Linked DNA regions of Homo sapiens. The protein of the gene in region 2 interacts with the protein of the main gene of each other region in a biochemical or structural test. Each region holds a gene or a part of one and is shown on either strand. Other genes may lie near its edges. The genes, in order: PRKAB1 and SLC31A1.

Region 1 (8,323 bases), on a different chromosome or scaffold from region 2:
ATGGGCATGTAAATTAGTACAACCATTATGGAAAATGGCATGAAGGTTCCTAAAAAGTTATAACTAAAATTACCACATGGTCTAGCAATCCCACTACAGGGTAGATACTCCAAGGAAATGAAATCAGCATGTCGAGATATCTGTACTCCCACGTTCACTGCAGCTCTATTCATAATAGCCAAGACGTGGAATCAACGTAGGTGTCCACAATGGATGAATGGATAAAGAAATGAGGTACTGATACACAATGCAGTGCTGCTGAGCCTTACAAAAGGAATCTTGTCATCTGTGACAGCATGGATAAACCTGGAGGACATTAAGTGAAATGAGCCAGGCACAGAAAGACAAATCCCATGTGATGTCACTTATGTGGAATCCAAGAAAGTCGAACTCACAGAAGTAGAGAGTAGAGTGGTGGTTGCCAGCGGCTAGGAGTGGTGGGGGTAGGGAGATGCTGGTCAAAGAATACAACATTTCAGTTAGACAGGAGGAATACGTTCAAGAGATCCACTGTACAACACGGTGACTATTAGTAACAATGTATTCTTGAAAATCTCTAAGACAGTAGATTTTAAGTGTTCTCCCTACTGCTCTGTGCCTCAGTTTCCCCATCCCTAAAATGGGGGTAATAATTGCACCTACTTCACATGGTTGTTGTGAGGCTTGAATAAGAATACACGAAAAGCACTTAAGATTAGTTTGGGGCAAAATAAATGTTAACCCTTTAGTAGTGACAACTGTAACCACAGTTTACATTAGAGCTTAGTGCTACCTTGGACAGAGGGGTCCTGACATTCTCATATTCCCAGCCCCCTGGGCCACTCTCAGCTTGTCTATTCCCAGCAGCAGTCTCCATCAGAGAAGATGGCTAGTGATGCCTCCCTTTTCTAGAAAAAACAAAACCTGGCCAGGCACGGTGGTTCACGCCTGTAATCCCGGCACTTTGGGAGGCCGAGGCGGGTGGATCACGAGGCTAGGAGATCGAGACCATCTTGGCTAACATGGTGAAACCCCATCTTTACTAAAAATACAAAAAATTTGCCGGGCGTGGTGGCGGGGGCCTGTAGTCCCAGCTACTCGGGAGGCTGAGGCAGGAGAATGGCGTGAACTCGGGAGGCGGAGCTTGCAGTGAGCCAAGATGGCACCACAGCACTCCAGCCTGGGCAACAGAGCAAGACTCCGTCTCAAAAAAAAAAAAAAAAAAAAACAAACCTCACTAGCTTAGGAGGGCACTGAAAGTCATCTTACCCACCAACCTTTGTAAAGTTAGAGCTAAGGGAAGCAGTGTCAACTAAGTGCTTCTAAGGCAGAAGCTACATGTCCTTGAAACTCTTCACCTGTGACCTATTTGAGACTGTTGCCAACTCAGTGCTGGAAAGATGGTGGGCCCTGCCAGCTGAGGCGTGCTGTCCTTACCACTGGCCTCTTCTGGGCCTATACCAGGATGGCTACCCAGCTGCAGGGGCACTCCCAGCACAGGAGGTGACCTGAGAAAGGCAAGCCCTGTTGGGTACCCTGTAGGGTAACAAGCACTGAGACCCTGTCCTGGCAGCCCGGCAGGGACCACTGTAGGGACACCTGCATGTGTACACGTGCATTCCTCGTCTCAGCACACATGCCCTCCACTTCAGGGTGGAGTGTTCAGTAGCAGCATGGTTACTTTAAGCACCTCGTAAACAATGCCTCTTAAGAGGTAGCTTGGACCAAGCTGAATTCCTGGATTCCCAAGAATTACGGCTGTGCCATGCATCCCAGAGCTAGGCGGACTGGGCAGGCAATCCAGGTTAGATGGAACAGAAAACAGAATCACAACAGAACTGGCTGTTCTTCAAGATCCAGGAGGACACACACTTCTTTTCTGCATGTAATAATTTCCCGGAGGAGAAATGTGTGTTACCTAGATATCCCAAATTTTGATCCAGGAGTACTGATATTTCTAAAAGCAATTGAATGATTAAAACTAGATTCTAAAATGTGGGGGCCAGAGCATGTAGCTTACTAAGAAGAGATGGTGATACAGTTTGTCATGAAATGTAAATTGAACAGGGCTTAGACTGAGGCAGGCGTGAAGGACAAGGAAGAGTAGTGCAGAAAGGCTTTGCAAGACGAGGCAGCGGTGTCCACACTGGGAACCTCTTGTTATCAGCCCATCCCCACAGCAGAGGTGAACGGCACAGTTCACACTAGGGGGTGACACTGAGCTTGCTCACCAGCTGCTTTGCAAGAGGTGGACACAGGAAAGAAAGCAACTGAACATGACCCACGGCGGATGGTCCGGGCAGATGCCCACATACTTACGGAAATCCCCGTGTCCTTGTTCAGGATGACCTGGAGGAGATGTGGGGGGAGAATAGGGGGTGCCCGAAAGCGCTCTTCGGGTTTGCAGACGTAGGGCTCCTGATGGTAGGGTCCTGGGGGAGAACTGGACAGCTCTGTTGGGAGATGGTAACAGGACTTTACTTTGAAAATCAGGCATTCTAGGAGCAGCCTTACTTATGTTGTCATCATCTCATTTTCCTTGTCTCTTGTTCCCTCAATGCAGATTTACATTCTCTTGAAGGATGCACTGGTTCCAAGAGTGCAGAATAGAGGAGAGGAGAAAACCCTTTTGGAATCTGGGTGACTAGCATACAACTCAGTAGTCAACTCAGATGCCCTGGTGGAAGACACGGCCCAGCCAGTGAGTCTGCGTCAGATCACAAGGAGGCTATTCTCGATAACTTAATCCCACACGCACGGCAGAATAAGACTTCCTTCTCCCTTCAGGCTGGGCTGGCAAAACCACAAAGAAGCTGGAGGCTAAGTGAGGATTGAGTAGCTAAGTCCAAGTTATGGGCACCCCCGGCCGCAATGCAACAGAAGATGAGGCAGTCTGTTTACACAGAGGCCGTGGAGAAAACAGGCTAAACGAGGCACATTTCAAAATGGGGGGGAAAATTGAAAGCCCAATATCTAAAGGCTCTTTAACTCCATTACACTCAAGTTCCTTCCAAACTCTTGCTTGAGTATCTGGATTATTCAGATACACTGAGAAGCTGCTACAAGAGCAGGATTTCATAATGCTAGAACACTGGATAGTGACGTTTGGCCAGCCAGAAGGTACCAAGCCATCATCCAAAGAACGCGTGGGATGGTTCTGGTCGCCAGATCCTGGGACTGGTCCAGGGAAAATCTGCTATGCCCCAGCTCTGCCAATTCCCTCAATGTCATTTTTCAGGGGACAAGCCCCGTTTATGTGACCCAACCATATCACAGCAAGAAACTGAGAAAAGCATGAAGTGCAGAAAACTGAGCCATAAGGAGTAAATAACATTTTGAGGAAGTAAGTGTCGAAACAGAAGTCTGTAGAGAACGTGGAATTAGCTTCGTATCAGTGAGGGGTCCGTTTCCTTTCCCTAGGTGGAAATTTGACTAAAAAGCTTGTAAGTGGCTTAAAATTACATGTATCAGTAAGTTATATATTTTGGAGGATATTTGGGCACACTTCCTCCATTCCCTGATTCTCAACTATCTGCAAAAAAACTAGATGATATCTCTAAAAGACTAATTACCCAGATAAAAGCACAGATTTCGGATTTCCAAGTCCTGCTCAACAAACTGTCAACCACAGTGAGCCCATTGTGATCATTTTACCACTGTGATTTCTGAACTGGTAACAAGAAATCCTGGTGGCAGAACTTCCAGGCCTAACTAGACAATGATGAAGAACTCTCCTGTCAACGAACGGAATCTGTTTTCTTAGGGCGCCAGATATTCTGCCAGGGCATCTTTCCACTGCCTCCCTCAGAGTCCAGGAATTGTTAAGCCCCCGCCTCCAAGAAGGGGAACACTTTAGATCGCAACCCTCTTCCCCCGAACTGTATGAATCATGTTCCAGGTAGTTTCTTCCTGTGGGGCTTGGAGGGAAAGCAATTTATTGAAACCTCGATGCCTGAAAGGCTCTTACAAGATGGAGAAGTTTTACTGGGTCTGTATTTCTGTACCAAATAGCTTCCCATCAAGGAGAGTTGGGCTGTGCAGGCTGTTTCCCGTGGGGAGCCGCATCCTCCCCAAAGGGATTCTGACAAGGTGCTAATGTACCACATAAGTGACTGCTAAGGTCACTGAGGTGTCCATTTACACCTGTCAGGCTGAAATTCTTCAGGCACCACAAGTGGGATGAGACACAGGCTTCCCCAGTGCTGGGCTGTCACTGACTCAGTGCCACCCTCCAGGGCCTCTTCAGCCCTGCCCTTGGCACGAGATCAAGCTATGGTTCCATTTCTGCTGTCTGCGTTCTGTGGCCAAGCAGACCTACTGAATACCTGAGATGACCAGGGAAATGACTTGTAGCTCCCTTAGGGCTAAATTTCAACAACCTGACAGGAATTAAGTTCTGTGGCCTTTAAGTGGGGGCTATAAATGCCTATCTGACTGGGCAGCTTCAGCTCAAGAGAGGCAAGAGAAACAAGAGTATGTCTAGACTGTACAGCCCCCACCTGCACGCATGTGGTATAAAATAACTGTGTTCATACCAGACACATCGGAGCACTTTTGGGAATCCACCATTAAAGCATCAAATACTTCAAAGTCAGTTTTCTTCACTTGAATGATGTTGTTAACTGTGCCAAGCTGGCTGGTTACTATGGGCTGGGAAGAGACAGATAGGCAGAAATCATAACGTGGAAGGTCTGCGGAGTTATTCTTCAGAGGACTTGGAATTCCTGGCTGGAAGGCCTCATCTCCTGGCTAGCCACCCTGCTCATCTTGGTCAAGTATGCCAACTGTCTGACAGGTAGTGCTGCTACTCAGCTCTGCCACACACGGGGACTTTTACTAGCTGGGCAAAGGGACCTAGCGGCAATCTCTTGGGAAGGTGATTTGTTTGGAATGTGCGGGCACCCAGAGGACCAGAGGTGGGAGGAAGAGTACCTCGGAAGGGTCGTGCGTCCACTGACCATCCACAAAGAACTTGTACTGATGCTCTCCTTCCGGCAGATCCAGGATGGCTACAAAGTTATTGTGGCTGCAAGGAAAAAGGAAGCAGAGGACTTCCGTGGGGTGGGCTGCCCCCCGAGCTTACTTGCCAAACCAGCTACAGAACAAAACGTTTCCACATAAAACCAAGAGTTCAGCTGCAGGAGAACAAACATTTTTAGCCCATTTAGACAATTCAGCATAATGACCTCAATCTGAAAAGGCTATAAGGAAGCAGCAGTGCGACACAGTTTCCTGAAAACTCACCTTACTCAAATACCAGGAAACCACATCCCTAATGTTAAAAGGTCAACAGTCAGGCATTTGTGCGTCTCAAGCTCGCAAGGCTCCTGGATGCCAAGGAGGATGACAACACAAGATAAACAGAAGCTGCCTCGTTTTACCCTTTGTCACTTTGCCTTGGGCAGGAGAAGGGATCAATTGAATAGGAAGCTCAAATGTTCTCTAAAGAAACTTGCCTAATGACTGAAAAACCAAACTCCGGAAGAGCCCCTTCACTGGGTTGTTTTGTCCCCTGGCTTGAACTGACCTGTGACTGCTGTGCTGAGTGGCTCCCTCCTTCTCCAATGGAAACGCTGGAAAGCAGGCAGCCCCTGACAATAGGCCTGACACTTTCTCCCTCATTTTATCAAGAATACTCACTAAAGGTGTTCTCTCACTGACAACTTAAGACAGAAGTCCATGCTGGGGTTCCTGATAAAATGTCTTACTATAATCCTTGCTAATGACACCTACATAGCATGTATTTTTCTTTTCTTTTTGGAGACAAAGTCTTGCTCTGTTGCCCAGGCTGGAGTGCAGTGGTGCAACCACTGCTCACTACAGCACTGACCTCTCAGGCTCAAACAATCCTCCCATCTCAGCCTCCCGAGTAGCTGGGGATACAGGTGTGCACCACCATGTCCAGCTAATTTTTAATTTTTTTGTAGAGATGGGGGTCTCACTATGTTGCCCAGGCTGGTCTTGAACTCCTAGCCTCAAGCAATCCTCCTGCCTCAGCCCCCAAAAGTGCTGAGATCATAGGCATGAGCCCCCATGCCCAGCCAACATGTACTTTTCAAACAAAGTATTACGCAGAGTCAAAGTTAGATGAAACCTCAGAGATGATCTGGTCCAATATTCCCTCTTTACAGAAACGAACGCTGAGGCTCAGGTTAACTAACGTTAGGTGACTGACAGCATGGCCAATGTGGGCTCAAATGTGGGTTTCTAAGATTCCAGCCCAGTGCTCCCTTACTGCATTAAGACAGATTTTTGTGTTTCTGTGGAAAAGTCCTGACCGAACAGATAGCTGAGGATCTGAAGTGAAAGATGTCTGTGACACAGAAATATTCTCTTTCTTCTGTACTCTAAACCTAGAGACCACCAAGGTTTAACATTTGAACCTTAAGACTTATTAAGCAAAATTATTTTTCCACTAGGCATCCATTTTATAGAAACATCCATTTTCTGTTCTCTCTCAGAGATGTTTTAGAAAGAAGAGAATTTATGTTAAGACAAATATGTGAACACTCCCCAGGCAATTACCTTCTGGTGAGGGGAAGTTTACTCCAGTTGTTGAAGGACCCAGATAAGTAAACTTCCTTTCCGCCCCCCGTCCATCGAAACACCGTTGGCCGAGCCTGGGCGGGAGCTTTATCATTCACTTCCAGATCATGCTGCCAGGCCAGGAATTCCTCCTTCTCTGGTGCCTAGAAGCAGAGCAGTTTACTCAGAAAGCCATAAGCGAGCTCCCTACAACAGACAATATTGACAATTCATTCTAAAGACGCAGCTGTTACTATCTTGGTTCATGGTTAGGATCGGAAACTTACTAGTGGTGCCTCAGTTTCCTTGCCTGCAAAATAGAAATATATTTTTTAAGGTTGTGAAGACTGAGACAGTCCATGTAAGTGCTCTATATAGTGTCTGACACAGTGAGTGCTAATTATTAGCTATTGTTGTCATTAAAGAAGTTGACATCAAAATTCTAGAAGAAGCTATGAAACACACTTGGAAGGGGCTACTACGAATCCAAGACTAGCTTAATGTCATGTTCCTCCCTTAATCAAGCAAGATTTGAAGTACAGTCATGTGCATGATGTCTTAGTCAACGACGGACTGTGTATATGGTAGTCCCATAAGATTATACCATATTTTTATTGTTATCTTTTCTATGTTTAGATACATTTAAGTACACAAATCCTTAAATATACTTGTGGAATAAGTGTCTACAGTATTCAGTAGAATAACATGCTGTACAGGTTTATAGTCCATAAGCAACAGGTTACACCATATAGACTAGGTGATACGGTTTGGCTCTGCGTCCCCACCCAAATCTCACCTTGAATTGTAATCCCCATAATCCCCACGTGTCAAGGGCAGGACCAGGTGGAGGTATCGATCATGGGGGCGGTTTCCCCATGCTGTTCTCTGACAGTGAGTGAGTCTCATGAGATCTGATGGTTTTATAAGCATCTGGCATTTCCCCTGCTTGCTCTCATTCTCTTCTGCCGTCCTGTGAAGAGGTGCCTTTTACCATGATTGTAAGTTTCCTAAGGCCTCCCCAGCCATGCGGAACTGAGTCAATTAAACCTCTTTTCTTTATAAATTACCCAGTCTCGGGTATTTCTACATAGTAGCATGAGAACAGACTAGGTTTGTGTAAGTACACTCTATGATGTTCACACAATGATAAAATCACCTAATGATGTATTTCTCAGAATATGTCCCTGTCATTAAGTGATGTATGACTGTACATGAAAATTTAAGAGGAACAATTCTAGAGCTGTCAACTTGAAAATAGGCAAATCCAGATTTTGAGGAAGGGAAAAACTACTCACAAAGTTCTGTCTAGGGACTGGGGAATAAAGCAAGACAAAGACTGAACCCTCATTAGGATAAATGATAACCTCCAGTGTGGTAAGCTCCGTATAACTGAGGTATTCCAGAATAAGAAATAAACTCATCCAAATCTATCTGGATGACATATGTAGTCATGCACCTTTTAGATTTTTTCCCAGTCAGAAGCCAAAGACTTAAAAAGAGCAGAAGGTTCAGGCTGGAAAAGACTCTTCAGGGAGTTAAGCAGGCTTCTAGCACCTTCATCTCAAATACCGACCTCAGCTTATCCAAATGATGCCTGTATTCTTTGAATTCTAACAAGATCTACATATTAAATAACAGACTGGAATCACTTCACACTAAGGATAACTAATTATGACCAAAATAGCACCCTAGTGTAGTTAAAAGAATTCACGACTTTTTTGGTATCTGGGGATTTCAGTAACTTCTAATGAAGTGAGAATGGACGCTGCTTGAAATCATTCCCCATAGATGATGTGTGTGCTCAACATTTCCTGGAGGA
Region 2 (8,323 bases):
AAGAGTAGTAGCAATTCTAAGCTATAACATAGAACCATGTATTCTGTGGTATTGCTAAAAACATAACGAAGGAACTGTTTTCAGGGCTACTTTCTAGAAAGTTTGTAAGCTTTTACAAGTTGCCCAAATAATAGGAAGAAGTCCAGTGAGGCACCTAGTTTCAACTACCCAGCAGCAATTTTCCCTGGGAATATGGCATTGAAGAAAACATTTGGAAAGGTAGGACTGCCTAAGTGAGCTGCATGTTAGACCATATAATTCTGTTATCTGTAACTTTACAGGAGTTATAGTCCACATGTGGGCCTGGCTATCGCCTATCCCAGAGTTTATCAGAACTCTTCCACAGAGATACTATGAGTACTTAACGTATGGCCCATAGACAAGTTTTTAAAATCTAAAATAAAAAAAAATCAACACTAATCAAACTCTATCTTCTAAATGTCCAATAAGCTAGAGTTCATATTCATCTAATATTCACTTTGATCTTGATGATTTCATACACATAAAATGGAATTCATGTGAATAAAAAGATACATGTGTATTTTGAATTATACATTCCAATGCTGTTCCTACCAGGTGTGCCTAACTCCACAGCTACCACTAATGCATAACTAAATAAATAATTTCCCCATTTTTTTTTTTTTTGAGACAAGATCATATTCTGTTGTCCCGGCTGGAGTGCAGTAGCATGATTACAGCTCACTGCGGCCTACACCTCCTGGGCTCAAGTGATCCTCCCACCTCAGCCTCCAGAGTAGCTGGGAACATAGGTACATACCATTATGCTCAGCTAATTTTAAAACTTTTTGTAGAGAAGGGGTCTCCCTATGTTGCCCAGGCTGGTCTTGAACTCCAGCCCTTAAGTGATTCTTCTGCCTCAGTCTCCCAAAATGCTCGGATTACAGGTGTAAGCCACCGTACCCGGCCCCCAATTTTTAAGCGCAACACAAAGAATGGCAGCAGGAGCCAGAAAGATAGGTGTGTGTGCGCATTTACTTAAACATAGGCAGACACAGACTCCTCTTCAAGATAATTTACTTGGTCTCTTGTCCTTTCCTGAACCAAATTAAGCATGCAAAGGGATGGCTTGATAGGTGTGTCAAGGCTGAGCAGGGAAAAGGAAGGATATGGCACTTGAGAGGGGAGCAAAGTGAGGTCAGATCACTTTGACATCTACCTCAATTCAACTCAACAAGTATTATGAAGTACCCTCTGCCCCAGAGGCTATAGGGAATTCAGAGATGGAAAGGATGGAGGCTCTGGCTTAAACTTGCTATTGAACAGGGAAAATTTCACAAATGGCTTATTGTACCTAGAAAGAGAATGAGGGAGGTGAGATGGGGAGAAAAGAAAAGTTAGTAGGTTATAGTCAAGAAAGCATGAGGGGCTGATACAATTCTGATCTGCTTTATGGTCCCTAGCTTCCCCAAAAGACTAGTGACTATAGTAAACAATGTTATTGTGGCTATTTCAAAATATCTAGAAGAGAGAATTCTGAATGTTCTTACCATAAAGAAATGATAAATGTTTGAGGTGATGTATACGCTAAACACCATCGTTTGATCATTATGCAATTTATATACGTATTAAAATATCACACTGTACCCCATAAATATGTACAATTATTATGTATTAATTAAAAACAAAACAGGCAGGGTACAGTGGCTCATGCCTATAATCCCAGAACTTTGGGAGGCTGAGGTGGAAGGATCTCTTGAGTCCAGGAGTTCAAGACCAGCCCGGGCAACATAGTGAGGCCTTGTCTCCTCAAAAAATCAAGAAAAGTAGCCAGGCGTGGAGATGCATGCCTGTAGTCTCAGCTATAGGCTGAGGCCATAGGATCTACTTTTGTACTACTTTGGTAGGCTGAGGCAGGAGGATAGCCTGAGCCAGGGAGGTTGAGGCTGCAGTGAGCTGAGATCGCGCCACCGCACTCCAGCCTGGGCGACAGACCAAGACTCTGTCTCTCAAACAAACGAACAAACAAACAAATCCCCAAAAGATTAGTAATTGTTATGGTATCATACACTTTGTAAAGTTATCACACACCTCATAACCATCCAAAAATTTGGGAAGACAGTAAAACACAGACAGAGGCAGATATTTGTTAGGCTCTCTTTGTTTCATCTTTCCATCTTCACTCCCTACATAAATTGTAATAAAGAGCAAATCTTCTGAATCCTCTACTTGGTAAATGCTAGTAAACATAGTTGGGAGACAGTCTCCTTTTGTTCTGAGTTTATAATATTCACCTTGCAAATAGCTTGAATAGTATTATACTGAAAAGCAATAGAAAAATCTACAAGACCATGATGCAGGTGACTTTAGTGAAGTCTGCAATTCAACATAATTTTGGAGAGATTACCTATTCTTGGCTCTTACTTAAGACTTAGTTCTGAATAGTAAGAGATAAAAATTAAGATATTACCAAGAAAATGATACTTTTTCTTTTCCACTAATCATTTTCAGTTAAAGTCTCATAGAAGATCAAAACTAGAACAGTCATCAGTCTGCCCACATTCTTTAACACAGTAATCCCACTTCTAAATATTCATTCTACAGATAAACTGGCACATATGTGAAATGTGTATGTACAAAGTTACTTATAACAGGAGTGTTTGTAATAGCAAAATATTAAAAATACAACCTAAATGTTCATTGATAGGGCACTGATTAAATGAGTTATCATATTTTCATACAATGGAATACTTAGCAGAATAAGAATGAGAACGATCATATATATTGATATAGAATGATCTGTAAGACGTATTATGAAATGAAATAAAAGCAGAATATACTGTATGCTATAATTTGTAAAAAACTTAAAAAGGAAACAGAGTATGTTCATGTTATTTTTATACACCTATACTATCTGCAGGGGAGTTGGGGGGAAACAACAAAGTTGTTGGTTGAGCCTGGGAGGCAAAATAGGACCGTGGTCCCTAAGGAGAGCTGGTCAGAAGTGGGTAGGAGTAAATGAAATACTTTTCACTGAATATCCTTGTGTACTTTTTGAATTACAAACCATATGAATATATTTCCTATTTAAAAAATTAAATTATCAGTCAGGCGCAGTGGATCACGCCTATAATCCCAGCACTTTGGGAGGCCATGGCGGGCGGATCACCTGAGGTCAGGAGTTCAAGACCAGCCTGACCAACATGGAGAAACGCCATCTCTACTAAAAATATAAAATCAGCCGGTCGTGGTGGCACATGCCTGTAATCCCAGATACTAGGGAGGCTAAGGCAGGAGAATCACTTGAACCCAGGAGGCAGAGGTTGCAATGAGCCGAGATCACACTATTGCACTTCAGCCTGGGCAACAAGAGCGAAACTCCAACTCAAAAGAAAAAAAAAAGTATCATCAAATCCAACTCCTTTATTTTACAGATGTGGAAACTGAGGCTTATGTTATTAAATGATGACACTAACATTCTTTAGTTAGGTGAATCCATAACATCTGCTTCTGATAGAAGGCTCCATAACACTAGACTAACCGCTTTCTCCAGCCCCATTTCTCCGGATGGCTTGCTGGGAAGCAGCTAAGCAGGATGGGTTTCTGAGCTTTACATATCCTGTTCTGGTGGCAAATAACATAGAAGCTCCTATTTCTCTTGCCCACTCCCACCCTTCTGTACAAAGAAGATCAAGTGTACAACTACATTCTTCCAAAGGCCTTTACAAAAGCTTTTATTTGCCTGGTTCTAATAGGACAACTCAAATTTGATATGTCAAACAAACAAACTGAAAAGGTCTTTTAGTTATGTAATGATAACAGGGCCTAAGTCCAATGGGGAGTGGATCTCCCAGCTACTTTACTCCATTTCTGTGATACCTTTTGTTGTTGGGTAAGCCACATCCTGGAATAATGTAATCACATGATGCACCCTTTCATGCTCCTCTTACAGGATCCTTTTGTAGCCTTGACGCACTTCCAGTCCGCTAACTGTGCTTTAGTATGATTTATGTGACAATTTCAGTGTTTTCTAGATAGTATCTTAGAGTGGAGAAAGCATGCAGCACGAGGCATCAAAGGCTCTGAGCTCTGGACCCACATTTGCCATATACTAGCCATGTGACATTAGGCAAATCACCAAAATTTGCAAAATTTGCAAAACAGATATTAAAATACCTACGCTGCCAATCTCATAGTATTGTAAGGGTCAAATAAAATATGTTAAATACTTTCCAATTTTAAGGTACAGTAAATATGAAATATAATAGCTTGCTTGCTCATTAGATGACAAAATTAATCTCTGAAAGGAACTAAGTCACACATAAGGCTCACTTTCATGTTTCTTGAAGTATACAGCCTTTCACAGTTTGATTTAAACAAAACTAGCTAGTCAGACAAATATACATTGGCAAAGCATTGCTTTAACTGCTTTATTGTTATAATCAAATGTAGACAATGGTCCTCCTTGTCTAAACTTTGCTTTAGTTATATTACATAGCATTTAAACTGTTTGGATAATAATGTTGTTGGTTTGCCTATGAGTAATATTGGAAATTAATATGGCATAAGACAGAAACTAGAAAACATTTGAACTGTTCCCTTTTTTTTATTCAGTAGGAAAATGCAATTAAATATGTTACACAAGATAAAAGGAACTTGAATGATTTAATGAAAATGCAGTACAAGAATGCAAATGAGGCTGGACATGGTGGCTCATGCCTGTAATCCCAGCACTCTAAGAGGCCAAGGTGGGCAGACTGCTTAAGCTCAGGAGTTTGAGACCAGCCTGGGCAACATGGCAAAGCCCCGACTCTATCAAAAATACAAAAAATTAGCTGGGCGTGGTGGTGCATGCCTGTAGTCCCGGCTACTCGAAAGGCTGAGATGGGAAGATTGCTTGAGCCTGGGAGACAGAGGTTGCAGTGAGCTGAGATTGTGCTCCTGCACTCCAGCCTGGGCAACAAAGCAAGATCCTGTTTCAAGAAAAAATAAAAGAAAAAAGAAAAAAATTGTTCAATATCTCAGATAGAGGCTGTATGGTGTGGCAGTAAAAGTACTGGGCTAGGAACTGAAAGAGGTTCTACATCTGCATTCTAGATCTGGCTCTTAGGTCTCATTTGCTATGCAATTTCAAGGAACTCAGACTATTCTTTCACTATTTATTGCATACCTATCGAATGAAGGTACCATGATGAAACTCTAACCATAAGAAACCCATTCTGGTGAAAGAGGGACACATGTAAATAATTTAAAAATAATGTAAAATGTACTAAGGTATAGATTATGCATAGGGGTTGTGTGAGAACTCATAAAAAGCCATCAGAAAAGGTAGGAGAGAGGATGCGGGTGTATGAGTTACACCATTTCCCTTTCATTTCATAAATTAAATGACTACATTCTAGATGCTGTAAACTGCTTCAAAATTATATAAACACTCATCATAGTTCTACAATAACTCTTCTATCTAGGGAAATATGTCACCTGTTGCTAGAATTTTGCTCTCTTTATATGTTCCCTCCAAATCATTTCTCATATTTACTTTTGAGATTCAGGCTTCCATCTTACCATGCTGTATTTCATAATGTCCTAAGCCTACAAAAGCAGGTTGTATACAAAAGCCTAGGGCCATTGTGTAAAGGAAAAGAGGTAGGGTGGACCCTTCTCAACCCTTTCCTTCTCTGCAGGGCTTTGCATTCCTAAGGATGGGCCCCTCCTCTGCTTGGGGATGTTACCTAAATCATAAAATGATATTACTCAAAGCAATGGAACTTCAAAAGCATTTCCTTCCCAGGCCCTACTATAAGATTTCTTTTGGCATAAACTGTTCATTGTAATGTATTAAGTATCAGACTTTTGATGACTTGTTATACTTAAGTCACAAAACTACAGAAAACTTTTAAGTTTTTAAAATGGATTTAAGAGCTGCATGTGGGAGTACAGGCATCAGGAACCCCCTACCCCTTCCCTCCCTTTTCCCCAGTCAGGCCTGCCCTGTCCACTTTAAAATGCAGTTATTTGGGTGATGCCCTGTTACTAACTTAACTGACAACTGCTAGTTGAAATCAACTTGTCACTGTAAACACTTTGCTTTCTTTATTTCTTTTTTTTTTTTTTTGAGATGGAGTCTCACTCTGTCGCCCAGGTTGGCGCACAGTGGCGTGACCTCAGCTCACTGCAACCTCCGCCTCTCCGGAGCTCAAGCAATTCTCGTGCCTCCGTCTCCTGAGTAGCTGGGACTACAGGTGCCCGCCACCATGCCTGACTAATTTTTGTATTTTCAGCAGACACGGGGTTTCACCATGTTGGCCAGGCTGGTCTCGAACTCCTGACCTCAGGTGATCTGCCTGAGCTGGGATTACAGGCGGGAGCCACCACACCTGGCCGAACACTTTGCTTTTCTAGTGATTATTATATCATCTTTCTCTCTTGTAGCACTTCTGGTGGGAAAGGTGCAAAAAGGAATTAACAGTAGAGATGAGTCTCTGATTCCTAAGTCCTTCTCTACCAAGACTTCCAAGTTGGACAAAAGAGGTAGAGAAAGACTTAGGAATCAAAGACTCTTATGAGTATGGTATCTACTTTCAAAACAGTCATTTCATTTTATTCACATTTAGTATGGAAACTTTATTTTTCTCAATTCAAAATTGAGATTATAATCCAAAGGAAAGCTGAATTGAAAATTTTAACAGATTAATACCAGTGCCCCAAGTGGTGTTTACCATGCCTTCACAACAACCTCATGTTCTAGGGGCCATTAGAAAATGAAGTGGCTACTGACATGGAATGGAGCTAGGGAAATGTAACTTTTTACTTCATACACTCCTAAGCCATTTGAACTTTTTTACATCAATCATGCCATTTAGAATAAAAAATTCCACTTCCTACCAATCTAAGTACAAACTTGTCACCTTGACCTTCAAGGTATTTGACAAATATGGTCCTGGATTCCTTTTCAATTTTAATCCATTACTTTCTTCTGTGAACTGTTGCCTTATACTCTTAGCAAACTATCCCACAGAACTCTCTTATCCAATTTAACTGACATCACACCATTAGGCTATTCTCCAATGTGATGGGAACAACACTTCTGGTTCCCCCTCTGTGAAGTGTGCTTATCAATGGTGACAGTGTGTTTATTCACAAACCTATTTATGCCAGTTGTGCTTATTACTGAAAGTACGTAAATACTATGTAAAGCAATGAAGTATAAATGAGAAGAGAAAAATGACAGCAGCAATTAACACTGAGTACTTACTACCTGCCAGGCACTGTTCTAAATGCTTTACATGAATTAACTCCTATAATATTCACAAGAAACCTAGAAATGGATACTACCATTATGCCTGTTTTACAAAGGCAAAAACTGAGTAACTTGTCTATGGCCTATACAACTAATAAGTGGCAAAGCAATTTGGCTCCAGAGCTCAAGTACTTAACTACTGTACTACATAGACTCTCTAGTAGTTATTTCTAAAACACCACACTGAATGCTTTCGAAAGACCAGATAAAAGTGAGCACACAAGGCCGGGTGCGTTGGCCCACGCCTCTAATCCTAGCACTTTGGGAGGCCAAGGCGGGTGGATCACCTGAGGTCGGGAGTTCCAGACCAGCCTGACCAACATGGAGAAACCCCGTCTCTACTAAAAATACAAAATTAGCCGGGCATGGTGGCACATGCCTGTAATCCCAGCTACTCGGGAGGGTGAGGCTGGAGAATCGCTTGAACCCGGGAGGTGGAGGTTGTGGTGAGCCGAGATTGTGCCATTGCATTCAAGCCTGGGCAACAAGAGCGAAACTCTGTCTCAAAAAAAAAAAAAAAAGTGAGCATACAGATAACACATAAACTTGCTGTTAGGTGTGGGAGACAACAGAAAAGTCTGGAAGGACATTTCATAAACACCTAGAAAGATTCTGCAGTGAGACTGCTTTGCAAGTGACTTTAAGTATTCATTCCATGTTAAAAATACCATAGATAACGTAGGCCAGGGGCTAGCAAGCTCTTTCTATAAAGGGCCAAAAGTAAACATTTTAGATGTTGCAGGCCATGTGGTTTCTGTTGCAATCACAAATATTCAATTCTGCCTTGGAGGGTAAGAGGAGTCATAGACAATACATAAACAAATGAGAAAGGCTGTGTTCTAATAAAGCTTTACTTATAAAAACAGGCAACAGGGTCCTACACTCCAAGAAAAGGCTGAGGCCTTATGTTAAAAGAATGGCAAAAGAATGTTTATGTGTTCGTTAAAATGTTATGCATATAACTATTATCTGTATGATTCCCTGCTTTAACTTACTTCTTCAGTTAACCAACTAATGGCCCTAAGTCTGCTTTCAGTGACTGAGTGAACGGAATGTTATAGATCC

The links.
Region 1: of the proteins of SLC31A1 (region 2) and PRKAB1, one has a biochemical effect on the other in vitro, tested with the Homo sapiens proteins (one study listed by BioGRID).

Annotation. Positions count from the first base shown.
Region 1 is NC_000012.12:119,670,646-119,678,968, reverse strand, and holds part of PRKAB1 (5'-AMP-activated protein kinase subunit beta-1), read right to left. Parts: intron 6,669-8,323; coding exon 6,505-6,668; intron 5,006-6,504; coding exon 4,912-5,005; intron 4,630-4,911; coding exon 4,515-4,629; exon of another isoform or gene 2,543-4,514; intron 2,433-2,542; coding exon 2,299-2,432; intron 1-2,298. UniProt on the Homo sapiens protein: Non-catalytic subunit of AMP-activated protein kinase (AMPK), an energy sensor protein kinase that plays a key role in regulating cellular energy metabolism.
Region 2 is NC_000009.12:113,223,886-113,232,208, reverse strand, and holds part of SLC31A1 (high affinity copper uptake protein 1), read right to left. Parts: intron 1-8,323.